Linked DNA regions of Homo sapiens: all the other regions are linked to region 2. The links come from fine-mapping of genetic effects on gene expression. A gene starts in region 2. Each other region holds a variant in brackets. All regions are shown on one strand. Distances are between the middles of the regions.

The links. PIP is the estimated chance that this variant, and not a neighbour inherited with it, causes the effect.
Region 1: its variant is fine-mapped to the expression of MADD in subcutaneous fat (GTEx, PIP 0.94).
Region 3: its variant is fine-mapped to the expression of MADD in lymphoblastoid cells (GENCORD, PIP 0.95).

The regions. Positions count from the first base shown.
Region 1 is chr11:47,339,707-47,347,706 of GRCh38, reverse strand. MYBPC3 (myosin binding protein C3) reads left to right here. Exons shown (of 35, transcript NM_000256.3): 8 at 27-56; 9 at 228-281; 10 at 678-680; 11 at 1,063-1,080; 12 at 1,337-1,500; 13 at 4,083-4,215; 14 at 4,445-4,447; 15 at 4,562-4,686; 16 at 4,772-4,877; 17 at 4,963-5,129; 18 at 5,551-5,716; 19 at 6,463-6,569; 20 at 6,675-6,704; 21 at 7,917-8,000. Among named protein-coding and RNA genes, the nearest start is that of MYBPC3, 9.0 kb to the left of the region's middle. The variant C/A (reference allele first, on the strand shown) is at 3,163.
Region 2 is chr11:47,264,670-47,275,455 of GRCh38, reverse strand. It overlaps MADD (MAP kinase activating death domain), which reads right to left and starts at 5,323. Exons shown (of 37, transcript NM_001376571.1): 1 at 5,210-5,323; 2 at 1,480-1,629; 3 at 297-893. The coding sequence starts at 1,541. It overlaps NR1H3 (nuclear receptor subfamily 1 group H member 3), which reads right to left. Exons shown (of 10, transcript NM_005693.4): 8 at 7,430-7,543; 9 at 7,101-7,195; 10 at 6,423-6,906. The coding sequence ends at 6,760. It overlaps MADD-AS1 (MADD antisense RNA 1), which reads left to right and starts at 3,346. Exons shown (of 3, transcript NR_120569.1): 1 at 3,346-3,380; 2 at 4,315-4,377; 3 at 4,476-4,799. RefSeq lists enhancers at 5,264-5,558, 6,032-6,141, 9,924-10,218 and silencers at 5,032-5,561, 5,772-5,881.
Region 3 is chr11:47,847,206-47,857,991 of GRCh38, reverse strand. NUP160 (nucleoporin 160) reads left to right here and starts at 9,642. Exons shown (of 36, transcript NM_015231.3): 1 at 9,642-9,773; 2 at 10,033-10,144. The coding sequence starts at 9,674. RefSeq lists enhancers at 7,553-7,602, 7,633-7,682, 9,145-9,704. The variant AG/G (reference allele first, on the strand shown) is at 4,365.

The sequences.
Region 1 (8,000 bases), 74 kb before region 2:
GAGGATACTGAGTCTAACCCCCACAGGAGCCTGGCTGGAGGTGGTCGGCGGATCAGGTACCCCTGCCCCAGGCCCTACCTGCACCATCCGCAGACCCCCAGGGGTCTGAGACGGGTGGGAGCCCAATCTGGCTAGTGTCCCTTTCTCCCTCCCCACTCCACTCCCATCCTGCTCCTAATCCCTTTCCAGTCCCTCACTGCAGCCTCACTGGGGGTCCCTCTCCATAGTGATAGCCATGAGGACACTGGGATTCTGGACTTCAGCTCACTGCTGAAAAAGAGGTGAGTCCTGGGTGGCAGTTCCTGGGGCAGCTGGTGAGGCCTGGCTCCAAATCCCAGCACTGTGGTTTGCCAGCTGTGTGACCCTGAGCACAACACTGCACCTCTCTGAGTTGGTTTCCTTGTCTGTCGAGGGGATGATCCCAGTGTGGAAGGAGTTAAAGGGCTCTGCAGACATTATGTCCCGTCAACAGTCATCCTCACAGTGTCCCCCACGGCCACTCCACACTTGAGGCTGCAAAAGCTCCCTCCGTAAACTCCGGGGACCCAGAAGGAACAGAGAGAGGGTCCCCAGAGCTGCAGGGTCTACCAGGTCGGCCCAACTGACTTATGTTCTCTCTGCCCTCTCTCTCCCTCTCCCCCGGCCCCTCCATTATGGCTGCTGCTGCTGTGGCCCAGAGAGTAAGAATCGGGGTCTGGGTGTTTGGGGGCGGCAGGGCGCTGGTGGGTGCAGAGGGGATTCCCGTCCCCTCTCTGAGAGGCTGTGGTGAGAGACTCAGAGCAGGGTGCGGCTCCCCACGGACAGGGGTGAGTCTCTGTGCCTTGGGCTTCTCCTGCCACCCACCTATCTGTCAGAGCTTAGGAGGGATAAGAAAAAGTAATGCACACAGGAGGTCCTGCCAGAGCCTCCGGAGCAGCATGGGTGCCCCACAACACAGGGAGTGCAAGTGCGGAAAATAGGGAGGAAGTAAAGGCCCATGGGTGGGGTCCAGGTCTTTGAGGGAAGGTGGCCATACCTCTCATGTGCCACCTACCCTTTCTCCCACCCCCACCCCTGGAGCAGCAGTTTCCGGACCCCGAGGTGAGTGCCCAACATAGCACAGCACCCTCATCACCCCTAATTCTGCCAGGAGCCCCTCCAGATCCCCAGCCCCTCTTCAGCTCCCTTGGCCCCCAGTCCTGCCTGGCCTGGGACCCAGAGCAGCTCCAGCTGCCCCACCAGAAGGGAAGGGGCAGAGGGACAGGGGTGGCTACAGCTCCTTGGTCCTGGGCCCAGGAAGCCCCGCCCAGGGGGCTGCAGTCTTGCCCCCGGCCACAGCCTAGACTGCGGGACACAGGGACTCGAAGCTGGAGGCACCAGCAGAGGAGGACGTGTGGGAGATCCTACGGCAGGCACCCCCATCTGAGTACGAGCGCATCGCCTTCCAGTACGGCGTCACTGACCTGCGCGGCATGCTAAAGAGGCTCAAGGGCATGAGGCGCGATGAGAAGAAGAGCACAGGTTAGCCCTTCCTCAGAGGGGAGAGGAGAGGGCACAGGCTAGCCCTTCCCTACACAGGAGAGGAGAGGGCATAGGTTAGCCCTTCCCCACAGGGGAGAGGAGAGGGCACAGGTTAGCCCCCCACCTCGTCCACATACATGGAAAGAGCGGAGTCCGGCTTAGCACAGAGACTCACAGGAAAGAAGAGCCCAGGTTAACCCCTCCTTGTGTAGAAAAAGCCAAGAATGCCCAGGTTAGCCCCTTACCACAGAGATAGAAGAGAAGAGCAAAAGTTAGGCCAGGACAGCCACAAGGAAAAGGACAGAGCTCAGGTTAACCCTCCTCACCAAGGAAAAATCAGGCTACACTTTCTTTCTCTACCCTCTTCTGAAAAGAAATGAAGCCCGGTTAACCCTCTCCACACCCAAAAGAAAAGGGAAGAGGCCCGCTAAGCCTGGAGAGCCACACACAGGCAAAGAAAAGAGCCTGGCTAATCTTTCTCTCAGGCAAACAAAGCAGGAGGGCTTGGGTTAACTACCCTCACCCCCAGGCAGATGGAAAGAGGAGAGCCCAGGAATAGCCCTTCTCCACTGAGGGGTTGACAAGGGCGGGTGTGAGCCGGGAAAGCAGGGGTCTCACATGCCTTCTCCCCACCATGTCTGGGTCTAGCACAGGGCCTGGCACACACCTCGAGCGCTCTATAAACACCGACTGAATGGAGGGGTCAGCTTCCATGCAGGATATGGGAGACAAGCCCCTCCCAAAGCACACACACAAAACACACACGATCATGGGGACGGGGAGAGGAGCTGGTTAGTCCCTCCCTGCTGACCTCCCCCAGGCCCCTTATCCCTCTGCCCTGCCTCCCTGTTGTCTCAGCCTCACTGGGTTTCCCATCACCCCATCGCTAGGTGGCCTGGCCCTTACCGGCACCGTGGCCCCATTTAAGCCAGGGATCCCCTGAATGCCACCAATGTTCCTCTGGGTTAACTCCTGAACTGCTGAGCCCAGAGGGCACCAAGCAAAGGACTGTAGGTGCCCAAGGAGGAAAAGATGGAGGCTGGCAAGGCAGATGGGGACCTCCGAGGGTAGGGGTGTCTTCCAGGAATAGCAACAACAGTAAAAAGAGCAAATTGCTGGCCAGGTGCAGTGGCTCACGCCTGTAATCCCAGCACTTTGGGAGGCCGAGGCAGGTGGATCACCTGAGGTTAGGCGTTCAAGACCAGCCTGACCAACATGGTGAAACCCCGTCTCTACTAAAAATACAAAATTACCTGGGCATGGTGGCAGGCGCCTGTAATCCCAGCTACTCCGGAGGCTGAGGCAGGAGAATCACTTGAACCCGGGAGGCAGAGGTTGCAGTGAGTCAGGATTGTGCCATTGCACTCCAACCTGGGTGACAGAATGAGACTCCATCTCAAAAAAAGTGAGTGAGTTCCTTCCTAAGCCAGCCACTAGGTGCTTTATGTAATTATCTCATTTAATTCTCGAAACAACACTATGATGGAAGGACTATTACCATTTCCATGTTACTGAGGAAACCGAGGCACAGAGGGTTTAAGGAACTAGCGCAAGGTCACAGAGCACCCAGCAGTAGATCTCTGCCCCTCCGCAGCTGACTCCAGGCCCAGCCAGAGTATTTGAGGACTCAGGGGTCCTTCTCTGCTCGGTGGATGGAGCCCC[C/A]ACTTCCTCCCTGGGCTCAGCAGCAGCAACATGGGCTTTTACAAACACGGCCGCAAGAGGAGGCATTGTTGTGGAGCAGGGCTGGGCTCAAGACCCAGCTCTGCCACACACCTGCTGGGCTGGTGGCATTGGGCCAGTCGCCTCTCTGAGCCCTATTTCCCCCACTGCAGCAGCATGGGGACCACCGCACTGGCCCTGGGGGCTGAGATGGGAGTGAGAGTGCTGGGCACAGAGGGCTGCTAGGTGGGAGCGCCTGGGAAGAGTACACAACTCAGGGGTTGCTGAGAGAAGAGAAGGCACAGCTGTCCCAGCCCCAGTTCTCCTGACAAGCTTCTGTCTTTCTGGAAGCCCCTAACCCAATCCCTGAGCTGAGCAGGTGGAGAGGACCCCAAGGAAGACAGAAGGACAAGGTCAGACAGACAGAGACAAGGAGGTGGGTTGACACATAGACACAGATAAAGAAATGAAGACACCATGCCTGTAATCCCAGCACTTTGGGAGGCTGAGGCGGGCGCATCACCTGAGGTCAGGATTTCAAGACCAGCCCGGCCAACATGGTAAAACCCCGTCTCTACTAAAAATACAAAAATTAGCTGGGCGTGGTGGCACATGCCTGTAATCCCAGCTACTCGGGAGGCCGAGGCAGGAGAATCACTTGAACCTGGGAGGCAGAGGTTGCAGTGAGCCAAGATGGCGCCATTGCACTCCAGCCTGGCCAACAGAGCAAGACTCTGTCCAAAAAACAAACAAACAGACAAACAAACAAAACAAAAAGAAATAGAGACACAGAGAAGTGGAAGCGGGGCGGCACAGAGGGGATTGGAGGGGGGGACCTGGGCCCCAGCCACAGCCACAGTAGCTTGGCCTGGGGGAGCAGGGTGCGGGCGGTGGGGTGGCCGGGGCTGAGGGGTGGTGCTCAGCCTTTCAGAAGAAGCTGGAGCCGGCCTACCAGGTGAGCAAAGGCCACAAGATCCGGCTGACCGTGGAACTGGCTGACCATGACGCTGAGGTCAAATGGCTCAAGAATGGCCAGGAGATCCAGATGAGCGGCAGGTGCAGCCTGGGGTGGGGAGGGGGGCTCGGGTGGAGGTGGGGACCCCCATAGCCTTGCCTCCTGCCCCTCTCCACATGCGTATCTCTGACTCGGTGTGGCTCTCAGCCCCATCTCTCTGGGCCTAATTTCCCATCCTTTTGCTCCTGCCGGTCCCTCTCTCTCTCTCCTTTTGTCTCGGGCTCACTTCCTCCCGTCGGGAACACTTCAACGGCCCCTTCTGTTCTACAGCAAGTAAGTTCCCCTCTGGATGGCTTGGGGTGGGGGGCACAGGGATTATCATGGGGCGCACTGGGCCCGGAGGGGTGTCCGCAGCTTTCCTGCCACTTCCCTGCGGCCCCCACCCAGGTACATCTTTGAGTCCATCGGTGCCAAGCGTACCCTGACCATCAGCCAGTGCTCATTGGCGGACGACGCAGCCTACCAGTGCGTGGTGGGTGGCGAGAAGTGTAGCACGGAGCTCTTTGTGAAAGGTGGGCCTGGGACCTGAGGATGTGGGAACCTGGGGAGGAGATGGCCTCAGGGGAGCCAACCCTCATGCTCACCCTGCCTGGACAGAGCCCCCTGTGCTCATCACGCGCCCCTTGGAGGACCAGCTGGTGATGGTGGGGCAGCGGGTGGAGTTTGAGTGTGAAGTATCGGAGGAGGGGGCGCAAGTCAAATGGTGAGTTCCAGAAGCACGGGGCATGGGTGTTGGGGGCATCTGCCCAGAAGAGGCCACAGCACTTGCCACCCACCCACCCGGCTAGGCTGAAGGACGGGGTGGAGCTGACCCGGGAGGAGACCTTCAAATACCGGTTCAAGAAGGACGGGCAGAGACACCACCTGATCATCAACGAGGCCATGCTGGAGGACGCGGGGCACTATGCACTGTGCACTAGCGGGGGCCAGGCGCTGGCTGAGCTCATTGTGCAGGGTGAGCCTGGCTGGGGGGGCACATGAGGCTTTAGGGCTTGGACCCCTCAGCCCCCACCCCACCTAGCCCTGTAGGGGAGCAGGCAAACCTGGGCTCAAGGCCTCTGTGACCTTGGGCCTTTGACAGCCTAAACCTCATCCTTCTCATCTCTAAAATGACGATGCTGAGGTGACCGCTCCAGAGGGTACTGAGAGGGTCATACGGGCCTGGTGAGCATCACCACCCCTCAGACACTTGAGGTTCCTTATGTGCACTGCACCATCACAGGCAAACATGGCACACACAGGCACACGTGTTTTCACATGCCCACATGCACCCAGACACGTGCGCACCAGCGCCCATGGGCCCACACGCCCTCCACAGGGATTCACGCCACACCCACACACCCTCCCGAGCTCAATGGCTCTGCCCTGCCCTGCAGAAAAGAAGCTGGAGGTGTACCAGAGCATCGCAGACCTGATGGTGGGCGCAAAGGACCAGGCGGTGTTCAAATGTGAGGTCTCAGATGAGAATGTTCGGGGTGTGTGGCTGAAGAATGGGAAGGAGCTGGTGCCCGACAGCCGCATAAAGGTGTCCCACATCGGGCGGTGAGTGTGCAGGGCAGGTGGATGGGACAGGTGGAGACTGAGATGGAGACAGAGAGAGACACAGGGAGAAACAGAGAGAGAGAGATAAAGACAGGTGGACAGAGAGGCAGATGCACAGAGACAGGACAGAGACTGAGACAGAGACCCACAGAGAGGGAGAAACAGACAGACCCAAAAAGACAAAGAGACAGAAAGACAGAAATAGTTCTATAGAGACAGAAAGATATGCACAGGGAGGCACACACATAGGAGAGTTCGTCAGAGACAGAGAAGAACAGAGGGACAGAGACAAAGAGGCAGCAGGGAGAGACACGGACGGGGTCGAGCGCTCCCCAGCACCCTCCCCCAGCTTGTGACCAGGGCAGGGCAGGAGGCCACCAAGGAGGCCGGCTCTGGCCAGAGGCCCTCACTGCCTCTCCCGCCCTCTTGCTCATCCCTGGAGCAACTGGGCTGGCCGTGCTGGGCCCAAGTTCACAGAGATTAATGAGACCCAGCCCCTGCCCAGTCTCCAAGGGCCCAGCCAAGGAGATGCTTTGATGTAGAAATCACTTTTACGCTGCCTACCTCTGAAGGCACATTAAAAAGCTGGAAAATTAGATAATATAGAAAAAAAAAGGCATTTTTAAAAATCAGAATACCAACAAGCCAGGACAAGGTGAGGGCCTCCTGGGACCCTGGCTGGGGTATCTGGCAAGGCCAGGGGTGTGTGGCCCAGTGGGGTCCCCTGAGCCACTGCTCCCCTGCAGGGTCCACAAACTGACCATTGACGACGTCACACCTGCCGACGAGGCTGACTACAGCTTTGTGCCCGAGGGCTTCGCCTGCAACCTGTCAGCCAAGCTCCACTTCATGGGTGAGCCTGCTCCAGGGTAGGGTGGGTCGGGGCAGTGGGGCCAGGAGCCCCTGTCACTGGGCCCTGCCTTTGCCCCCGTGCTACTTGCTCTTCCTTCTCTTGCAGAGGTCAAGATTGACTTCGTACCCAGGCAGGGTAAGTCTTGGGGCCCCTGAGTCTTGGTTCTGCTCACTTTCCCGCAACCCACCCACGCAGGCCTCCCCTCCACTCACAGAGGGAAGAGCAAGGATCAAAAGTGGGGGTCCTGGGGCCCAGCTTCAGCTTTGCCACTCATGACCATGGGTCAATTATAATCTCTGTGAGCCTCAGTTTCCTCTTCTCTAAAATGGGAACCCTGATAGTGCCACCTCATAGGATAGTTATAAAGATGAGGTGACATGATGTATCAGACCTGTCAAGTGCTGTCACATGTGTGACTGTTATTATTACATCTTTTCTTCTTCTTCCTTTTTTTTTATTTTTATTTTTTTTGAGACGGAGTCTCCCTCTGTCGCCCACGCTGGAGAGAAGTGGCGCGATCTCGGCTCACTGCAAGCTCCGCCTCCCAGGTTCACACCACTCTCCTGCCTCAGCCTCCTGAGTAGCTGGGACTACAGGCGCCCGCCACCATGCCCAGCTAATTATTTTTTGTATTTTTAGTAGAGACGGGGTTTCACCATGTTAGCCAGGATGGTTTCGATCTCCTGATCTCATGATCTGCCTGCCTCGGCCTCCCAAAGTGCTGGGATTACAGGCGTGAGCCACTGCGTCCAGACTGCTTTGCTTTGTTTAACTGAGGGCAGATTCCTGATTTATTTGGCCAGGGAACCTTTTTAATGTGTGCATGTGTGCGTGCATGTGTGCGCGCGTGTGTGTGTGTGCATGTGTCTGTGTGTGTATGTATATATGTGTGTCTGTGTCTGTGTGTGTGCGTGTATGTATGTGTATTTGTGTCTGTGTGCATGTGTGTGTCTGTGTGTGCATGTGTGTATGTGTATGTGTGTCTGTGTGTATGTGTATATGCGTGTGTGTGTGTGTATTGTGTGTGTGTGTATGTGTGTGGCAAGACACTGATGTTCCCCCAGTTTTCAAAATGCTATGCTAGGTGACCTGACCTGAATATTACAAGCCTCCCAGCCAACGTCCTGGGGTGATGGGAATGTTCCAGATCTTGGTTGGATTAATAATTGCATGGGTGTATTCATCTGTCAGAACTCAGCCTACTGTCAGATCTGAGCATAAACTATACCTCAATACAAATCTAAAAAACCAATAACCAGGGGCCCAGGCTCTTGAGCAGCCCCGCCCCAGTGACCTGTGCTCCTCCTGGCTCTCCCGTTTCTCTGAACTACATTGTGTCTTCTGCAGAACCTCCCAAGATCCACCTGGACTGCCCAGGCCGCATACCAGACACCATTGTGGTTGTAGCTGGAAATAAGCTACGTCTGGACG
Region 2 (10,786 bases):
GCTGGTCATGGTGGCGTGCACCTGTAATCCCAGCTACTCGGGAGGCTGAGGCAGAAGGATCACTTGAACCCAGGAGGCAGGGGTTGCAGTGAGCCGAGATCGCACCACTGTACTCCAGCCTGGGCAACAGAGCGAGACTGTCTCCAAAAGAAAAAAGATTAACTCTAAATACTCTAAATATGCTTAATAGGTCTGAAGGACCTTGAGCTGTAGAGGAAATTTCCTATGCCCCTCAAAGACCAATTACATGGAATCTCTAAATGCTTCCCCCATTAGGCATCAGCAGCAAACTGTACCTTTGTACGCCTCGAGGGATGCCCAGTTTCTTGCCCAGAAGGCGCTCACTACAGCAGTCCACCAGGCGCTTGAGAGTATACAAACACTCTCGGAAGGTGGAGAAGAAAGGGTAGTGGCTGAGCACGCACAGGGACGTGAGAGTACTGTTGCGGGAGCGGCTCCCCGCCTTGGCCCGGCGTTTGCCCCGAGGAGACTGGTTCACATCAGGGGTAGAGTCAGCACTGAGAGGCTGCAGGGATGAGCCACTCTCTGAGCTCTCAGTGCCACCCTCTTCTGAGGCACAGGTGGCATGGGTTCCTTCCTTCCCACGGGACCCTGCCCCACCTTCCCCCTTCTCCTTAGAGATTCGCTTTTGGAAGGAGCGGTAGAAGTTAACACAGATGCCATATCGCGTGACTCCAGTGTCCTTGTCAGTGAGGGTGAAGACAAAAGAGGTATCATCCCGAAGGCTCATGCGCCGCTGCCGCACGCTCAGGCAGCCCTCGGGCTGGCAGAAGAACACTACATCTGGGGGCAGGGGAAACTCAGTGTGATCCTCCAAGGGGTATCGCCGTAGCAATTCAGGAGTCTGGGCCACGCTATCACTGCTCGGGTGCCTGAAGAACATAAAGACAAATTCAGCAGCCTGAAGGGATGGAATGGGCTATCAAATTTTAACCACAGTCAACAAATAAAGCTCAAGATGCTATTTTGGATAAAGTAACCTGACTGTAACACCTTGGAAAATATGGGTGCTGCCTGCCGCATGGAGCTGGTAACCTAAGTGAAGTCTACACTGTCATGAAGGCATCTATTCTGAAACGAAGGGGAGATTTTGACAATAAAATTATCACTGGCACCTTAAGATGATTAACATCTTTTAAAGTGAATTAACTAATAAATTACCAAAAAAGTATACATAGAGGAGTAGCTTATAATGTACTTTTTCTTTTTACAAAATAAGAAAACTGAGGTATAAAGAGTATATTTGCTCGACATCAAGAAGATGTTAGTTAAGAGCAGGGTTTTGCTTTCAATCCACCTGATTTTGTTTTTTCCCTACTGGCTTCGATGCTCCCATCAGGGTAAAATAACAGGAGAAGATGAGCTATGCAAAGCAACATGGAAATCGGAGAAGGGAACAACTGCAGATTTTATGGCTATCCCAGATATTAAGACAAAAGTCAATCTCTTCTTGGTTACCTGGCCCCTACGATCACTAGATAGTCAAGTAACCGAGGACAGAACTTCTTCTTTTGCACCATGGTTCCAATTCATCAGTTTATCTCAGAGAAGCATCAGGGCACCAAGCAAGGAGTCAGCATTCCCAGGAGGAATTCTGAAAATCGAAGTCTAATAGGAAAAAAAGTACTGATAAGATCCACTGCTGTGCCTAAGGGACTCATCCCTCTCAACTTCTTCCCGGCCAGAGGCAGAGGTCAGAAGGTCTTCCACTTTCATACTAATGATAGGAGAACTTGACGCTTGCCTAGCCTCGTGTCTAGGCTCATGAGCTCACAGAATCGAATGTTAAAAAATAGATAGGCCAGGCATGGTGGCTCACGCCTGTAATCCCAGAACTCTGGGAGGCCGAGGCGGATCACCTGAGGTCAGGAGTTTGAGACCAGCTGGCCAACATGGCAAAACCCCATCTCTACTAAAAATACAAAAAAATTAGCCGGGTGTGGTGGCACACATCTGTAATCCCAGCTACTCGGGAGTCTGAGGCATGAGAATCGCTTGAACCCAGGAGGTGGAGGCTGTGGTGAGCTGAGATCGCACCACTGCACTCGAGCCTGGGTGACAGAGTGAGACTCCGTCTCAAGAAAAAAAAAAAAATGTAGATAAATAATGGTTCACCTACCTATCCCTACCAATGACTTAATTTCCAGCTTAACGCCTGGGGCTCTGTTTCTGAAAAACAGACCTAGGCCATCTAATCTGGACTCAGTCATTGTAACAAAAATTGAAGTCACTCTCAGGATCCCTCCAGGGTGGATCAGGATCAAACCAGACTCCTCAACTAGCTAGCACTAACCTGCACTTCTAGGTCTAGATGGAAACTTAATTATTCTGTTTCAACAATCTACATTCAGCTTGATGTAAAACTACCACATAGACTGTCTAGTTAACCATGCTCAGACAATAACAGCTGGCTATTCTACCTCATGTGATCTCAAATGAAAATGTCCATGCCCCAATTGCCTAATCTGCACCACTTTTCTCCCTCCTTCAGGCAAGAAAGGAGCCCAGAGGCCACTGCTACTAGCTCTGCCCTTGGTGCTGAATCATAATCTCTCCTCTATTTTGATCTCAGGCTCAGAATCAGTAATACAATACCCACAGATGAGTCCTTGTCCTACTATACATTACAGAGGCTATGAATTAGAGGCAGAAATACCAGGATTTCTGCAAGGACAGGGAGACGTGCTCAGAGAAATTTCTAAACTATGTCCTAAAATTAGGAAAAGCTTTCATGGTCTTAATTATAATTTATTTCGTGTTAAGTGTCTATACACTTCTCTAAATAAAACGTTTCACCCCGCTGCACAGCTATTTCTGGTAGGGCTACTTCTTCTATGAGTAGAAGTTCTTTTCTCATATTTCTAGTGTTCCAGGATTCTACCTCTGTGCTCTACATGCGGCCTAAGACCTTGTTCAATGCACACGGAGAGAAACCCATTATCGTATACACACACACACCCTCTACTCCCTCACCTGCTGCTGCGGGCACTCCCATATATACAGACATACACACTCCCTGGATGCTTAAGGCCCTATTTGGTTTAGGTAATGAGTAGAAGTTTTTTCTCCCCTACCTAACAATAAACAAGACCTATTTGCAATACCTCTCAAATCCTCAAAATACTGCTTTCTCCTTTCCCTTGCTCCCAGTAGAGGACCTGCAGGTAATAGGATTCAGTTTTATCTCTATAGCGACTCTGGCTCCCAGCACTATTTATAGCAGAGCCACAGCCCCTCCCCTGCTTGGTGACCGCACAGTGCTAGCAGCTGCTACTCCAGAGTCAGCCAAGGCCCATAACAATTCACTCTCCTCGAACCTAGAGACACTTCTCCCACTGACAGTACCTGCTAAGAATTAGGTTGTCTTCTCCCTCATCTGTCTGTAGTTTGTACTTCGTCCTAATTCTGGCTTTTGATAGTGATATCTCTAGAACACCACCAGGTTTCTGAGCACGCCATATATTCATTTCTAGGTATCACCACTGCTTAACGAACCCAAATAGTCCCTTGGTTCTCCCAACTGCAATAGAGTCATGAGCAAACTGCAGGAGGTGGGGCACTATAACAGAGCCGCACTCAGCTCCTCCTGAGCAGAATCCAAGGGGGAGAGAAATAGAGAAATGAAATGGGATATGAGTAAAAAGCATAATTTGTTTTAATAAAGAATTATGTAGTTAACCTGTCATGGGATTCGAAAAAAAAAAAAGAATTATGTAGAAATGACTAGAGTGAGAGCCAAAGTATCTTAAAGTAAAACAGAATTTATAGAACCAGAGCTCTAGACTACACCTTGCAATCTATGTTTACATTGAAAACCCGGAGCCCTCTCCAACCAAAATCTCAAAGATCAGGCCTGAAGCACCTCCTACTGAGTACGCATCAGGCCTCTCTAGCCTTGGTGGGATCTCAGTCCCTCTCCACTGACAACTATCTGACGAAACTCAAGTCACTCACAATCATTTCCTTCCAGAGCCACAAGGACCCTGAGATCTTGTTATTATTCTAGCTACGGGTGGTAGGATAAATTTTTAGCCAGAGTTCACATCTGATCAGCAGCCACTGCCTTCAGTTATTCAGATTGCAAAGATAACTAAGATTTTCCTTCTCATTCTCTCCTCTCTCCCCTCCCCAAAAAGACTAACACCTTTAACTCCTCTAAAGACTAAATCCTCTAACATCACCCACAACTCACACTCTTGTCTTCACAACCAACGAGGCTCCGACTCTGCCTCTTGCCTCAACCATGTTTACTAACGTAGAGCCTCTGGTTCCTATCTTCCTGTATTCCAAAAGCATCCAGCTCAAAATGCATATCTATCTGCTGAAGTCCGACATCACCATCAGCTCCACCCAGAGGTAGATTTAGGATTCACAAACTTTTAAGTTATCTATGCCTTTTCAGCAGAAATAGCCATGCTAACCAACCCTTTGGATTCGTCCCTCATTTTGGACAGGATCTCACAGTAAAACCACAGGAACCAGAGAGCGATATGACATCTCTGCTGACGTGAACACAACAGGAGGCTCTCCTCCCCTCCTCTACCTCCCCAGGCAGTGACCTTGCAAGCTCATCAGCACAGACTGGTCCAGCGTATGGGAGAACTGGAGCAAGGAGGCTGGCAGCTGGCAGGGTTGGGGTAGAGGGGAGGGCAGGGAAAGGTGGAAGAAGGTAGATACACGAGGATGGGGAGGAGAGCGATTGCAGAAAGATGAAATGGTGTTCTCTCTCCAGCAAGTCAATTTTGAAATATCAAGTTAAAAAAAAAATTTCTTGAGAACCAAACGTGTTTCTCCAAATTCTAGCCAAAAATAAGGCGCAAGCACGCACACGCACAAGCACACCCGCCAAGCGCTGTGCGGGTTCGGCCCCAGGGCTGGCCAGCTCTGCCCGCCCCCTCACCTGCTGGACAGTTCTCCCCCGCCCCCGCCCCCGCCCCGAACCTGAACCCGAGCCGCCCGCTCGGCAGGAACCAAGCCCAGTAGCCTGAGCCCCCTCCTCTGCCCGGGGCGCCCCCATCCCCGTCCCCGCCCCTCCTCGGCAGACCCCCGTCCCCACGCCCCTTCACACTCCCCCAGGGCCTCCTGAGAGACCCCTTCCTCCAAGAGCCACGGTGTCCTCTCAGAGCCCGTCTCCCGCTCGGAGTCCCCAGACGCTCGCCCAGGACCCCACCGGCCCAGACTCTCCTACCTCCCAAGCTCTGGGGGACTGGCCAGGCCCAGCCCGACGTCCCCCGGCAGCGGGGCGTCAGTCGCTCCCCAGCGCGGCGCCGCTCCGAGCGGGCGCCAGTTCCGCGTCTGCACTGGGGGGCACGCACCACTCGCGCGGGGTGCGGAGGGGGAGGCCGGGGCCGGGGCCGTACCATTCAGCCCGGGGGGCCGGGGCTGCACCGAGCCGAGCGCCGCGGGGCGGGGCCGACCTCGGGAGACAGCGGCTGCGCACAGACCTAGCCTAGCGCCCGTGGGCGCGGGAGGGCGCGCCAGGCCGACCCAGCGCCGTCGCGTGCCAAGTGGGGGACCCACAGCAGTACCTTCTGTTTGGGTTGCTCAGAGAGACTCTCACCCGACGGGGTCATAGCGCCCGTTTCGACGACATGGGGATTCCTCTGAAAGTCACTTCCCAAGATAATCGGCCCCTGAGACTTCCTGACGGGCTCCCCATCCCCCAGTCCCCACCCCCCACTCACGCGCTTTGGCGGTGCTCGGCGTCCGAGCAGGGAAGCCGGCTGCCGAGCGGTGGAGCCTACCAATCCTGGGCAGCGGGGGCAGAGGGGGGCGCGCGGCCGCGGTTACCTCCACCGGGCGCGCGCGGGGAGTGGGGGGGCGTGGCCGCGCCGCGGCGCCCGCTGGGAGATGGAGTCCAGTCAGTCCGCGAGGACAGCCCCGCCTCAGGACATCCTCCCCGCGGCCACACGGCTCTTCTCTTCCTGTCCCAAAGGGCCTGGGGACCGACACTGGGTTCTAGGTCTTTCAGGTTGTGCCTTTTTCAGATGCCAAAGGAAAAACCAAGGCATGCTACACATGCACGTGAGGTGCACCGCCGACGCCTTAGCGCTGAAATCCAACACTTCCTCCTCCACCGCAGAAAGGCAACCGGATCCTACCCGGATCCCAGCAGGGGAAGGGGGCGCCTAAGCCTCAGCATTCCATTTACCCATATGGCGCAGTGGGGGTTAGTAAGAAGAGGCCCCCTCTCACGGCCAAGGCTGTCATTTGTGACTCTCCCTCCTCTGGGCCTGGAGGCGGATCCTAAAGATCGCAGGCTTCCTCCTCTATTACCGTGTCCCCACCCCCAATCCAGAAATTGGTTTCTCTCATTTTGTATTCATTTTGATCTTCCTGTTCAAACAGTACCAGACCTATCAGTGAGGCGGCGCTGAGGCATTTATGGCCATACCACAGAGTGACAGTGGAGAATTTTTCTTGGGGCCCTGTGGGAAAAACAGGAAGTGGTGGAGGCAGGATGGGCAGGGCTCTGGAGAACCCTGTGCAAAGTGGCCCCCAGGCCCATCCGTTTGTGGGGTCAGCATGATCTTCAGACACAGCACAGTGTTAGCGAGGGCTCCACTGCTCAGTAGCCACAAAACTCGCAACCCTTTGACTCTCTTTTAATGCCACGGGAGGATCTCCTTGCCCAGCTCCCAGGAATGTTTGCCCTTCTCAGTCTGTTCCACTTCTAGGAGGCAGCCACCAGGCCTCAGCCATCCGGCCAAGAAAACAGAAAATATGGGGACAGAACAGTCATTCGTGCACATCCCAGATCTCAGAGAGCAGCGGTGGGAGCTTTTTGTCCTGCAGACGCAGTGCAAACACTTGCTCTGAGTGGACGCTGCTCAGGGTCCGGAGGCTCACCAGTTTCATTAGCATCCGTGGGAACATCAGTCGGTCCTGGGGAAAGGAGAGAGACAAACACAGCTTTTGCCTGTCCCCAGGGAAGCGGGGCAAGAGTAGGGGAGTTGTGGGAGAGGTGAATTGTCTGCACAGCATGCAGTCAGAGAGAAATTCTTGAAGGGAAAGTAGGTATGTCAGGGAATGGGCCTGTGTGTGGGAAGGAGGAAAAGGAACACCATGGGGAGACTCACATGGGGATGGTGGATGGAGACGTAGGCATGCAGGGCTTCCACATATGTGTGCTGCAGCCTCTCTACCTGGAGCTGGTCCTGCACGTTGGGCCGGTCTATAGGTCACCAAGAGAGTTGAGGAGCAGGTCTGGCCAGGGTCCAGTTCCATACCCCAAATTGCAACCAAAATATAGAGACATGCTCCAGCCAAGCTCTCTCATCCTAAAATAACACAGCAAATGCCTCCACCCTCCCAAGCCACCACCCCCCTCCCCCCACCGATTCCTGTGGGACCTGCAGCCCTCCTTGGTGTAAGTCTCTTGCTGTTTCCCATTGCCCCTCCTCCACACCTGCAGAGAAGATGCTGATAGCAATGAGCAAGGCAAACTCGGCATCATTGAGTTGCAGCTCATTCATGGCCCTGGAGAACTCGAAGATGGGGTTGATGAATTCCACTTGCAGCCCTGGGGAGGAAGAAGGGAGGCTGACGCAAGCAGCAGGAGCAGCAGGAACTTTCTTCTCTCCTCACCTTAGGGAACTATTAGGAACTCACTAAGAAGTTTACTGAGGCCGGGCACAGTGGCTCACGCCTGTAATCCCAGCACTTTCGGAGGCTGAGGCGGGCGGATCACCTGAAGTCAGGAGTTCGAGAAGAGCCTGGCCAACATGGCGAAACCCCGTCTGTACTAAAAACACAAAAACTAGCCGGGCGTGGTGGCAGGTGCCTGTAATCCCAGCTACTTGGGAGGCTGAGGCAGGAGAATTGCTTGAACACGGGAGGCAGAGGTTGCAGTGACCCAAGATTGCACTACTGCACTCCAGCCTGGGCGATAGAGCGAGATTCCGTCAAAAAAAAAAAAAAGGTCTACAAGGCTTTGCTGTGTAACCTTGAGCAAATGTCTTAACCCCTCTATAAGCCTCATCTGTGAAATGGGAATCATATCTGAACCCTTCTCAGAAAATTGTTGGTATAGTTCAATGACAAAGTATGCAGGGCACTTAGCGCTGTGTCTGGCACACAAGAGGTGCTGAATTAAATAATAATTCTGGTATTCTTGTTTTTTTTCTTTGAGACAGGGTCTTGTTCTATCACCCAGACTGGAGTGCAGTGGCACAATCACAGCTCACTGCAGCCTCGACCTCCCGGGTGCAAGCCATCCTCCTACTTCAGCCTCCCTAGTAGCTGGGACTACAGGTGCATACCATCACAAGTAGCTAATTCTTATATTTTCAGTTGTGACAGGATTTCACCATGTTGCCCAGGCTGGTCTCGAACTCCTGGACTCAAGCAATCCACCCGCCTCGCCCTCCCAAAGTGCTGGGATTACAGGCACCAGACACCATCACCTGCCAATTCTGTCATTAAAATTCTTGAGGGCTCCACATTTCTAGAAATAGAGGCAACTCTTATTTTTGTTTATCAAGAATCGTTTTTCAGCAAGGCACGGCGGTTCATGCCTGTAATCCCAGTATTTTGGGAGGCCGAGGCAGGGGGATCACCTGAGTTCAGGAGTTTGAGACCAGCCTGGCCGACATGGCAAAACCCTGTCTCACTGAAAATACAAAAATTAGCTGGGCGTGGTGGTGCACTCCTGTAATTCCAGCTACTTAGGAGGCTGAGGCAGGAGAATTGCTTGAATCTGGGAGGCGGAGGTTGCAGTAAGCCGAGATCACGCCACTGCACTCCAGCCTGGATGACAGAGCGAAACTCCATCTCAAAAAAAAAAAAAGAAAAAGAAAAAAGGCTGGATGCGGTGGCTTATCCCTATAATCCCAGCACTTTAGGAGGCCGAGGCAGACGGATTGCCTGAGCTCAAGAGTTTGAGACCAGCCTGGGCAACACAGTGAAACCCGGTCTCTACTAAAAATACAAAAATTAACTGGGCATGGTGGCGCACCTGTAGTCCCAGCTACTCGGGAGGCTGAGCAGGCGAATTGCTTGAACCTGGGAGGTGGAGGTTGCAGTGAGCCGAGATTGTTCTACTTGCACTCCAGCCTGGGCGACAGAGCAAGATTCTGGCTCAAAAAAAAAAAAAATCCTTTTTCAGCAGGGCACGGTGGTTCACACCTGTAGTCCCAGCTACTCAAGGAGGATCACTTGAGCCCAGAAGGTCGAGGCTGCATTGAGCCATGATTGATCACACCACTGCATTCAGCCTGGGCGACAGAGCGAGACCCTGTTTCAAAGAAAAAAAAAAGACTTGTTTTTCACTGGCATTGGCCTTACTTATTTGAACACTAGAGATACATTTCATGTATCACATCCTCGAGGGAATATTGCAGTATGGGTGAGGATGTGGATTTTGGTGCCAGACTGCCTCGGGTTGAGTCCTGCCTCTACCACTTACAAGGCAGTGTGACCTTGTGTAAGTTATTTAACCTCTCTGGGCTTTGGTTTTCCCATCTGTAAAATGGGAATAATAATAGTACCTATCTCATAAATATGTGGCATATATGGTAACTACCACATAAGTGTTTGTAAAATAAATAAAAAAATTTTTTTTGAGACAAAGAGTCTTGCTCTGTTGCCAGACTAGAGTGCAGTTGCATGATCTCGGCTCACTGCAAGCTCTGCCTCCCAGGTTCAAGCAATTCTCCTGCCTCAGCCTCTTGAGTAGCTGGGACTACTGGTGCATGTCACCACGCCCAGCTAATTTTTGTATTTTTAGTAGAGACAGGATTTCACCATGTTGGCCAGGATGGTCTCGATCTCTTGACCTCGTGATCTGCCTGCCTCGGCCTCCCAAAGTACTGGGATTACAGGCATGAGCCACCGCGCCTGGTCAATAAATAATACATTTTTCTTGGAAACAGTCTTCCTGCTGAGAAGACTAAAATGCAACAAAACATGAGCTAAAGTAATGATACCTAGAGAATGTCTCTCATACACATTGTCAAAGTCTCTGCACCCTACAGAGTTCCCCAGGCTTTGTCAGATTTCTTTTAGCAACCATCTGCTACACTTTTCCATTCAAGGCTTCTTGGTGAGTCACTTCCTGTACTTTCACCCTGATGTTTATCAAGTGTTGTGTGTTGGTCCATTTAATGGGCAGGCCCCATTTTCTTTTTCTTTTTTCTTTTTTTGAGATGGAGTCTTGCTCTGTCACCCAGGCTGGAGTGCAGTGGCGCGATCTCAGCTCACTGCAACCTCAGCCTTCTGGTTCAAGCAATTCTCCTGCCTCAGCCTCCTGAGTAGCTGGGACCACAGGTGTGCACCACCACGCCCAGCTAATTTTTGTATTTTCAGTAGAGATGGGGTTTTGCCATATGGGCCAGGCTGGTCTCGAACTCCTGACCTCAGGTGATCCGCCTGCCTCGGCCTCCCAAAGTGCTGGGATTTCAGGTGTAAGCCACCACGCCCGGCGGCAAGCCCCATTTTCTAAAGCATTTCTTGGTGAGGTTTTGAGCCCCAAAGTGTGGCAAACAGCCCCCTTTATAGAGAAATTAAGAGGAGGTTCTATAGTTAGCTAATGCACCTCTGAGGGTCTGCTGATGCCCACGGAATGAACACCTCAAATGTGCTCAGTCCATGTCACCAGTTATCTACTGCATGCAGTAAATAGTAGCGGATAGGGAGGGGAGGAGACTTGACAAGCAGAGCTCCTGTTCCTTCTCCCCAAGACCTCACTCATGAAATAAGAAATGCAAGCATGATTACTTCAAAACTGCTTGTATAAATAAATCTATGAATAGGTGCAGATTCAGAT
Region 3 (10,786 bases), 580 kb before region 2:
TTTTATTTGCCTATAAACATCTTTCGGCACCTGCACCAAATTGAAACTTGGCAGGCAAAATGAGGAAGGAGTGATACTTCTAAAAACTCATCCTATTTTTATGATTTGAAGCTTTTTATTCTTTGTAGGGGTAGCACAGGAGAAGGATATTAAAAAAAAAAACTCTCAGGAGCAGATGAAAAGAGAAAAGAATGAAACAGACTGCAAAAATCTCTCAACTGATATTTATTGCCATCATTATTTTGCAGAGAAAGACATAAAGACGTGAGCACATTGATTGGCATTGCCCATGATCATGCAGCAACAAAGGAAGTGATAGCCCTGAGGTTTTAAGACAGAACCGAATGAGAAGGGAGGGTTTGAAGTGGGTGCAACTTCAAGATGGTCTAGATATAGGTGAGAATCTCTACTCAAATATCTGAATTTCTAGCCTCTTAATTGTATTGTACACTTTTATATTAAAAAGCACTTCTGAGGCCAGGCACAGTGGCTCACACCTGTAATGCCAGCACTTTGGGAGGCCGAGGCAGGCAGATCACTTGAGGTCAGGAGTTCAAGACCAGCCTGACCAACATGGTAAAACTCTGTCTTTACTAAAAATACAAAACAATGAGCCAGCCGTGGTGGTGCGAGCCTGTAATCCCAGCTACTTGGGAGGCTGAGGCAGGAGAATCACTTGAACCTGGGAGGCAGAGGTTGCAGCGAGCCTTGATCATGCCACTGCACTCCACCCTGGGTAACAGAGTAAGACCCTGTCTAAAAAAAAAAGCACTTTTGGACTCTATACATGCAAATAACCCTTTTTACTGGATCAACTTTTGATCTTGATTTTTTTTTTTTTTAAACAGGGTCTCTGTTGCCCAGTAATGTGATCTCAGCTAGCTCACTGCAGCCTCAACCTCCCTGGGCTCAGGTCATCCTCCCTCCCACCTCAGCCTCCAGAGTAGCTGATACTACAGGCATGTACCACCACACCTGGCTAATTTTTGTACTTTATGTAGAGATGGGGTTTCGCCATGTTGCCCAGGCTTGTCTCAAACTCCTGTGCCCGCCTCGAGTTCGAGACCAGCCTGGCTAACATGGCGAGACCATGCTTGGCCCACCTTGTTTTTTAAGACTAATATTGGCCAGGCGCGGTGGCTCACGCCTGTAATCCCAGCATTTTGGGAGGCCAAGGCAGGTGGATCACCTGAGGTCAGGAGTTCAAGACCAGCCTCGCCAACATGGTGAAACCCTGTCTCTACTAAAAATACAAAAATTCGCTGGGCGTGGTGGTGAGCACCTGTAATCCTAGCTACTCGGGAGGCTGAGGCAGGACAATGCTTGAACCCAAAAGACAGAGGCTGCAGTGAGTGGAGATGGTGCCACTTCACTCCAGCCTGGGCAACAGAGTGAGACTCTATCTTAAAAAAGAAAAAAAAAAGACTAATATTAAACATATTTTACTGAGATGAACTTAACTGCCCCTACTGAGGCTACCTGCACATCTGGTTCTTTGTTGATGCCTCCAATTCCACCACTAGAGTTTAATCCCTTTGAATGAGATGGTAAGTGGAGTATATAGATAACGTGCCAATTCCAGTCAGCTGATAGCTCTCTGAATCACTCTGTTGAAAATGATACCGAGGCAGTAGAAAAGGACTCCCACAACTGATTAGCAAGAGAGGGAGGAGGGGCAATGCCCTACCAGTTAAGGTAGTGTATGTTGCCATGACTTACCTCTGGGAAAGGCAATTTATGAAGTTTTTATAGTCATCAGCACCTCAGTGTGAATTACTATAATGTCAACTCATTTCCAGTTATACCAGAGCTAGTTTTAATAGGTAAGGCATTCATATTTTCAGAAGTAAAACTCAGAACATATGGTTCAAGCGAGGATTTTTTTTTTTTTTTTTGAGATGGAGTCTTGCTTTGTCGCCCAGGCTGGAGTGCAGTGGTGCCACCTTGGCTCATTATGGCACCACTGCAACCTCCACCACCCAGGTTCAAGCAATTCTCCTGCCTCAGCCTCCCTAGTAGCTGGGATTACAGGTGCATGCCATCATGCCTGGCTAATTTTTTTTATATTTTTAGTAGACGTGGGGTTTCACCATGTTGGCTAGGCTGGTCTTGAACTCCTGACCTCAAGTGATCTGTCGCCTCAGCCTCCCAAACTGCTGGGATTACAGGCGTGAGCCACCTCGCCCACCTTAGCAAGAGTTTGTTTTGATTTTGTGAATTAAATTACATGTAAGCTCCTACAAAGATACAGAAGTAACATTTAACTAATCATATAATGAATCATAATTGAAATTTACAGAAAATTGGCTGGGCACAGTGGCTTACGCCTGTAATCCCAGCACTTTGGGAGGCCAAGGTGGGGGATCACTTGAGGCCGGGAGTTCGAGACCAGCCTGGCCAACATGGCGAAACCCTATCTCTACTAAAAATACAAAAATGTTGTTAGAGGTACACGCCTGAAATCCCAGCTACTAGGAGGATGAGGCATGAGAATTGCTTGAACCTGGGAGGTGGAGGTTGCAATGAACCAAGATTGCACCTTATACTCCAGCCTGTGTGACAGAGTAAGACTCTGTCTCAAAAAATTTAAAAAAAAATTTTTAAAAGGCCAGGCATGGTCGCTCACACCTGTAATTCCAATACTTTGGGAGGCCGAGATGGGAGGATCACCTGAGGTCAGGAGTTTGAGACCAGCCTGGCCAACATGGTGAAACCCCGTCTCTACTAAAAATATAAAAATTAGCTGGGCGTGGTGGTGCACGCCTGTAGTCCCAGCTACTTGGGAGGCTGAAGCAGGAGAATCACTTGAACCTGGGAGGCGGAGGTTGCAGTGAGCAGAGATCAGGCCACTACACTCCAACCTGGGCGACAGAGTGACACCCTGTCTCAGAAAAAAAAAAAAAAAGTAAAAAAAGAGAAATTTATAGAAAATATTACCTGAAAGGTGAAAACAATCCAGGGTGTATAGTTCCCAAGGATAAGTCCAAAGCACAGGAGGGTCAAGTCTAGGTGGGAGCCCTGGGCTTTCAGGGCCCCTCAAAGGCCCTGGAGTCTAAAGTCATGGTGGTTTCCTAAGTGGGTAGAAAGAATACTGAAAACGGAATTGAGAAGTCACTGACATACTTCATTTATTCCACAATTCTGCTTTTTTTTTTAGAAACAGAGTCTCGTTCTGTCACCCAGGCTGGAGTGCAGCGGCACAGTCATAGCTCATTATAACCTTGAACTTCTGGGCTCAAGGGATCCTCCTGCCCCAGCCTCCCAAGTAGCTGAAACTACAGGTGTACACTACCATACTTGGATAATTTTTTTTTTTTTTGTAGAGATGGAGTCTCACTATGTTGCCCAGGGTGGTCTCAAACTCCTGGGCTCAACCAATCCTCCTGCTTCAGCCTCCCAAAATGCTGGGATTGTAGGTGTGAGCCACCATGCCCAGCTGATATTTTTAACCTATGGGCAAAATGAAAGTAAAGCCATGTTTTCCAAAATATATTCTCAAAGAACAATGGTCCAATGAGTTGCCCCTTGAAAAGAGTATTCTGTATGTCAAAGAGTCTGGAAAGCAGTATCATGCATAAGGCCTTCTTGGAACTTCACAAAGCTATTATATTAATGTCTTTGAAAAGTTCTTCAAGAAAGAAATATGTTTAACTTTATTTATCATCATTTCCCACACTTGTTTAAACCACCAAATTCTTCTTTCAAGGAGTAGCTATCAAGTTGGTTATGAAAATCTGCTTAAAGTTCAATTAACAGTATTGTTCAGCTGAGCGCAGTGGCTCACACCTGTAATCCCAGCACTTTGGGAGGCCAAAGTGGGTGGATCACGAGGTCAGGAGTTCAAGACCAGCCTGGCCAAGATGGTGAAACCCTGTTTCTACTAAAAATAAAACAATTAGCCGGGCGTGGTGTCGGGCACCTGTAATCCCAGGTACTCAGGAGGCTGAGGCAGGATAATCACTTGAACTCAGCAGGCAGAGATTGCAGTCAGCTGAGATCATGCCCCACTGCACTCTAGCCCGGGCAACAGAGCGAAACTCCGTCTCAAAAAAAAAAAAATAAAGAAAAAGTCCGGGCGTGGTGGCTCACGCCTTCGGGAATCCCAGCACTTTGGGAGGCCGAGGCGGGCGGATCACGAGGTCGGATGTTCAAGACCAGCCTCACCAACATGGTGAAACCCCATCTCTACTAAAAGTACAAAAATTAGCCAGGTGTGGTGGTGCGTGCCTGGAATCCCAGCTACTCAGGAGACTGAGGCAGGAGAATCGCTTGAACCTGGGAAGTAGAGGTTGCAGTGAGCAGAGATCGCGCCACTTCACTCCAGTGTGAGCAACAGAGCGAGACTCCATCTGAAAAAAAAAAAA[AG/G]TATTTAAATAAAACTTGCTGCACAATATTGGTAACATTCTGCATTTTGTTTCTAAACGAAGTCACTACCTAACCACTAGATGGCAATATGATTCAATTTATGTTATAACCATCCCCCAGAACATTAATAGTTCAAAGGGTATTTGAGTTTTCCAAAAATGCATATATGCACTTATTCATTCATTTAATTATTCCTCAAACATTTATTAGGTAACGTGAAGTTCCCGGAATTCTGATGGATGTTGGAGATAAGACAGTGATCTAAAGCTAAAAAGTGTTCACTGTCAAAAAATGTAATTCCTAGATTCCTATAAAACCGAAACATGCCTCATCAATTTAACATTTTTTTCTGAGAAAAAAATGAAAAAACATTACTACATTAAATATGTACATTGAGGCCGGGCGCGGTGGCTCATGCCTGTAATCCTAGCACTTTGGGAGGCTGAGACGGGTGGATCACTTGAGGTCAGGAGTTCGAGACCAGCCTGGCCAACATGGTAAAACCCCACCTCTACTTGAACCCAGGAGCTGGAGGTTGCAGTGAGCCAAGATTGAGCCACTGCACTCCAGCCTGGGCGACAGAGTGAGATTCTGTCTCAAAATTAATTAATTAATTAATTTAATTTAATAAAAATAAAAATAGCAATCATGTATTTAGCTCATTAATATGCAATTTGGACAGGGCTCAGTGGTCATGACTCATCTGTGCTCTACAAAATATCTGGGACCTGGGGACTTACCAGGCATCTCTCACTTCAAGTAGAATTAGAGTCTCTGTGTGTGGTCTCTCCCTGCAATCTGCCTAGGATGGCCCCGGCGTAGCCAAATTTCTTACATGGCAGCTTGCTTCCCCTATAGCCAGTCTTCAAAGAGAGATGTAGACTCTCTTAAGCTAGGCTGGCACAGCATCACTTTTGCTGTATTATATTCCTTATAGCAGTTACAGAACCCTCCAGATTTAAGGGGAGGGGACAAAGAAGGCTACACTTCTGGATGGGAACAATGTCAAAGAATTTGTGGCCATCTTTCTTTTGCCATATGGATATATGAGATTTGGGTGTTGGGATTAAAAGAGAAAAGTCCAGGGTAATTACTAGATTTCTAGACTGGGCCACAGTGGTGATGTCCACACAGATATAGACTACATGTGAGAGTATATAGTGAGACTATATAGAGAGGGGTAACATTTTGGATATGTTGAATTTGAGATGTCCATGGGAAATCCAAGGGGCATCAAGGAGGCAACTGAATATAAAAGGCTGAGAACTCGGCAAAAGAGGTCTGACCTCTAGATATGAAAGTGGAAATAATCAGTCTTCGGAATAGTTCTCTCTACTGTGGCACATCAGTGTCATGAGCAGTTATAACTTAGATAACCAGGAATTTGTAAATAATAACAGTTGAAGTGTGGCCAGGCGCGGTGACTCACACCTGTAATCCCAGCACTTTGTGAGGCCGAGGCAGGCAGATCATGAGGTCAGGAGATTGAGACCATCCTGGCTAACACTGTGAAACCTCATCTCTACTAAACATACAAAAAAAATAAGCCAGGCGTAGTGGCAAGCACCTGTAATCCCAGCTACTCAGGAGGCTGAGCAACTGGAACAGTGCTGGTAACTGCGATGGGGAAAGTAAGTGTGGGGAGAGAGGTTAGGACTTCAGTTTCAGACATGTTACATCTAAGATACAAAATAGGCCGTTGAATATATAAACCTGGACTTCGGGGGAGAAGCTTAGACTGGAGGTATACATTTGGGGATGATCGGCATATAACAATGCAGTATTTAAAGCCAGAAGACTGGGTGAGATTCTCAGGGGAGTGTTTGTAGATGGAAAGGACCAAGAACTGAACTCTGGACACTCCAACATCAAGAGGTTGGGGAAAAGAGGAGCATCTAGGAAAGGAGTCTGAAAAGGAACAGTTAGTGAAATAGGTAGAATCAAGAGAGTGGCGTCCTTGATGCCACATGAAGAATGTGTTTCCACGAGGAAGGAGCAAGCAATTGGTCAAATTCTACAAGTAGTCAAATAAGCTTAGAAATAACAGTTCAGGCCAGGTGCTGTGGCTCACGCCTGTAATCCCAGCACTTTGGGAGGCAGAGGTAGGAGGATCGCTTGAGGCCTGGAGTTTGAGACCAGCCTGGGCAACATAGGAAGACCTTGTCTCTACAAAAAATAAAAAATAAAAAATTTGGCAGGGCATGGTGGCACAAGCCTGTGGCCCCAGCTACTCGAGAGGCTGAGGCAGGAGGATCACCTCAGCCCAGGAGTTTGAGGCTGCAATGAGCTGGGATCACATCACTGCACCCCAGCCTGGATAACAGAGCAAGATTATGTGTCAGAAAAAAGAAATAGCAGTTTAGTATTAGACAGATAATGTGGATGCCATTGATAACCCGGAAAAAAGCAGTTTCAGCAAGGCAGTAGAAGCAAAAGCCTGAAAAACATGGATTTAATGAGGCCAGATGCAGTGGCTCACGCCTGTAATCCCAGCACTTTGGGAGGCCGAGGCAAGTGGATCACTTGAGGTAAGGAGTTCGAGACCAGCCTGACCAACATGGTGAAACCCTGTCTCTACTAAAAATACAAAAAACATTACCCAGGCAGGGCAGCGCATGCCTGTAATCACAGCTACTTGGGAGGCTGAGGCAGGAGAATCTCTTGAACCCAGGAGGCGGAGGTTGCAGTGAGCCGAGATTGTGCCATTGCACTCCAGCCTGGCCAACAATAGCGAAACTCCATCTCAATAAAATATATATATATATATATATATATATATATATATATATATATATATATATATGAGAATGAGAGAGAAGGAATTAAAACACTCTTGAGTTTTGCTGTGGGTGAGAGGAGAAGAGATATGGAGTAGTAGCTGCAGAGAGTGGAGGTCGAGGGAATGTTTGTATGCTTAGTACATACAGTACTAAGAGAAAAGGGGAAAAGACTGAAAATGGAAATAATTGAATTGCTAGAATGATGTCCTTGAGCAGGTGTTCTAAGGAAGTAGAAAGGTTGTCTCTGCATAAGCTCAGAGACAGTTTATAGTAACAGGAAGGGAAGGCAAAATATGTGGTTACAGATGCTGGTAGGTGGGGAGATGTCATTATAGAGGAAGTCCTCCCTTCCTCCTTCCTTCTTTCCAGATGGGTGTCTTTCTGGCCATGCTGGAGCACAGTGGCAGGATTGTAGCTCACTGTATCCTCCAACTCCTGGGCTCAAGAAACCTCCTATAGCTGGGACTACAGAGGCACACAACTATGCCTGGCTAGTTTTTTAAAAATTTTTATTAGAGATGGGGGTATGTTGCCCAGGCTTGTCTTGAACTCCTGGCCTCAAGCCATCCTTCCATCTCAGCCTCTGCTTTAATTTTCTAAATGAAGAAGCAAGCTGAGAGTCAGGATGACAAAGGAGGCAATGGAGGTTATAGGAGTTATGAAATATTCATTTAGAACAGTAAATGGAGAAGGCAAATACAATGTGTTTGCTGGGCAGCATTATGGGCCCACTCAAGGTACATGGTCCTGATGGAGTTACAGGGAGGCATGTCAGTATGGGTGTATAGTTTTCTGTTTTCTTTCTTTTCTTTTTTTGAGACGGAGTTTCGCTCTTGTTGCCCAGGCTGGAGTGCAACGGCGAGATCTTGGCTCACTGTAACCTCCACCTTCCGGGTTCAAGCGATTCTCCTGCCTCAGCTTCCCAAGTAGCCGGGATTACATGAGCGCACCATCATGCCCAGCTAATTTTTCTTTTTTTCTTTCTTCTTTTTTTTTTTTTTTTTGAGACAGTCTCGCTTTGTCACCCAGGCTGGAGTGCAGTGGCGCGATCTTGGCTCGCTGCAACCTCCACCTCCCAGGTTCAAGCGATTCTCCTGCCTCAGCCTCCCGAGTAGCTGGGATTACAGGCGTGCACCACCATGCCCGGCTAATTTTTTGTATCTTTAATAGAGACAGGGTTTCACCATGTTGGCCAGGTTGGTCTGAAACTCCTTACCTCGTGATCCACCCACCTCTGCCTCCCAGAGCGCTGGGATTACAGGCGTGAGCCACCGCGCCCGGCTAATTTTTCTATTTTTGGTAGAGACCGGGTTTCACCATGTTGGCCAGGCTGGTCTCGGACTCCTGACCTCAAGTGATCCTCACGCCTTGGCCTCCCAAAATGCTGGGAGCCACGCCCGACCCGGGTGTATAGTTTTCTCCAGTCATGTTCAGCTACAGATTTGAATGTAGTCGAAGTTGTAGTTTTTACCGATGAAGAGTTAGGCAATGAAGTAATTTAATGGTATTCAGGATAAGAAAGAAACACCAAAGAAGTGTGGGACAGTGAAGATTTTGTAGAACAATGGATTCCAGGTAGAATGAGGGGACTGCACTGCCAAAGTTGGTGTCCCAGAGGGAGTGAAGTGGAAAGATAGAAAATGATGGTCGGAACCAGATAAATGAAACGGAGAATGACAGGGAATGGTTGTGGTCACTGGTAATAGAAGTGCTTTAACTTCTATTGGCTATCACTAAGGAACAAAACCTTCCCCGCTGGAGATTAGCATTTTCCTCGATTTTGAACATCTACTCCCACAATATCTTCTAAACACCCACTATGGGCCCTTACTGCATTGACAGCCAAGTGCAAGATCACGGGTGGAAGGAATGGCAAATTCCTTTCACGTATCCAAGTGAGTAGCACTCAGGTAACCTCAGCAAGTGGCAGCACCAAGGTTTACCACATTACGTTTCATTATACAGGAATACACGAATACAGTCTCTTGGGGAGGGGAAAGACCAAAACCAAAGGCCTTTCCCTCACTACCCCTTCCTCACCCCGCCATCCCAAGTGTCGCCACTGAAGAGCGAAGGGAGGATCGCCAAAGATTTACAGACGGACACCCTAACCGAGGGAGAGGTGACCATAAACCCGGGATCCGGCAGAGGACGCCGAAAGGCCGGGACTCCCCGGACCTCGCCCCTCCTGGTCGACTGAGCCCCGCGTTTTAGAAACAGAAACAAACCCGGCCCCGCCCCCTGCCCTGCGGCCGCTGAGAAAAGAGCACCGCCCTCCGGAGGCGTTCCAGCCGGCCACTGGAAGGTTCCCGCAGATAGAGTCTGCCTCCCCTGCCCCCTTCTCTTCTGGATTCCTCGCTGCCCACCCTCATTCTCCCGGTGGAAGCCTCGCAACGAAGGGCCGGAGCCGCCTTTCTGCTCCCGGAATGCTTCACCTGTCCGCAGCTCCGCCCGCCCCACCCCCGGAAGTGACGGCGACCGCGCGGCCCTGCCTTTGTTCCGTTGGGCGTCGCGGCGACGGCGGGAAGATGGCGGCGGCGGGAGCCCTGGAACGGAGCTTCGTGGAGCTAAGCGGAGCTGAGCGCGAAAGGCCGAGGCACTTTCGGGAATTCACAGTCTGCAGCATTGGTACGGAAATGGCCAGGGAGGGTGCGATCCCATCTGTCCCCTCGGGCTCCTCTCATGGGTCCCAGGGTCCCTGACGCCCTGTTTCATCCTCCTGAGTCCACATGCCTCTAGCCCCGGGATCAGAGATTCCTTGATGTCCGACGTTTTCCTCTTTTCTTTGTATGGGTTGTCAGTCTGTCACTCTCTGCTTTGTCAGCTCCCTTAGTCCCTGTCATTTCTCAGAAGACGCGTGTGCAGGCTGACCACGTTCATTTTGCAGGGACTGCAAATGCCGTGGCTGGCGCCGTAAAATACAGTGAAAGCGCGGGAGGCTTTTACTACGTGGAGAGTGGCAAGTTGTTCTCCGTAACCAGAAACAGGTTCATTCATTGGTAAGTGTTGTGGTTCGCCAAACTCCCCTGGAAGGTAGGGTTTGGTGTATAAATTTTCGTCGCTGTACCCAAAGTGCTATTCTAGAAGCGGTAATTGACACTTAGGGAAAGAGAAAGATTGTTTTTTCAGTTCGTATCAGAATCGGGAAAACTGAGACACAGAGTTCTAGAAGAGATACCTCTCCCCCTCCCCCCCCCCACCCCCACACACACATACACCAAGCAACACCAGAAGCAGAGGAAATGTAGCTTAGGGGAATAAAGCCCATAAGACCAATTTTAAACATGAACCCGTTATGTTTTTATAGTGCTTTACAGCTTCCTTCATTGTACAAATACGTTCGAGCTTCAATATGTCAGGCATTGTGCTAGGTACCAGGACGAAATGAACAAAACTGCAATTTTCATCATGCAAGACGTTGTAGCAATGTCAGAATAGATGTAGACCCACTTTTCATGGGGAAATTTTTTGGAGGAAAACTTGCCCTAGAGGAAAAATATACGGGTTATGAGAGGCTAATAAGAGGACCAAATATAATTAGTGGGGCAGGGAAAGGCTTTAAGGAATTCACAGTTACCCTGAGATCTAAAGGACACGAGGTTAGCCAGGCATGGGGAGTGGACAGAGAGGAGTCCAGCAAG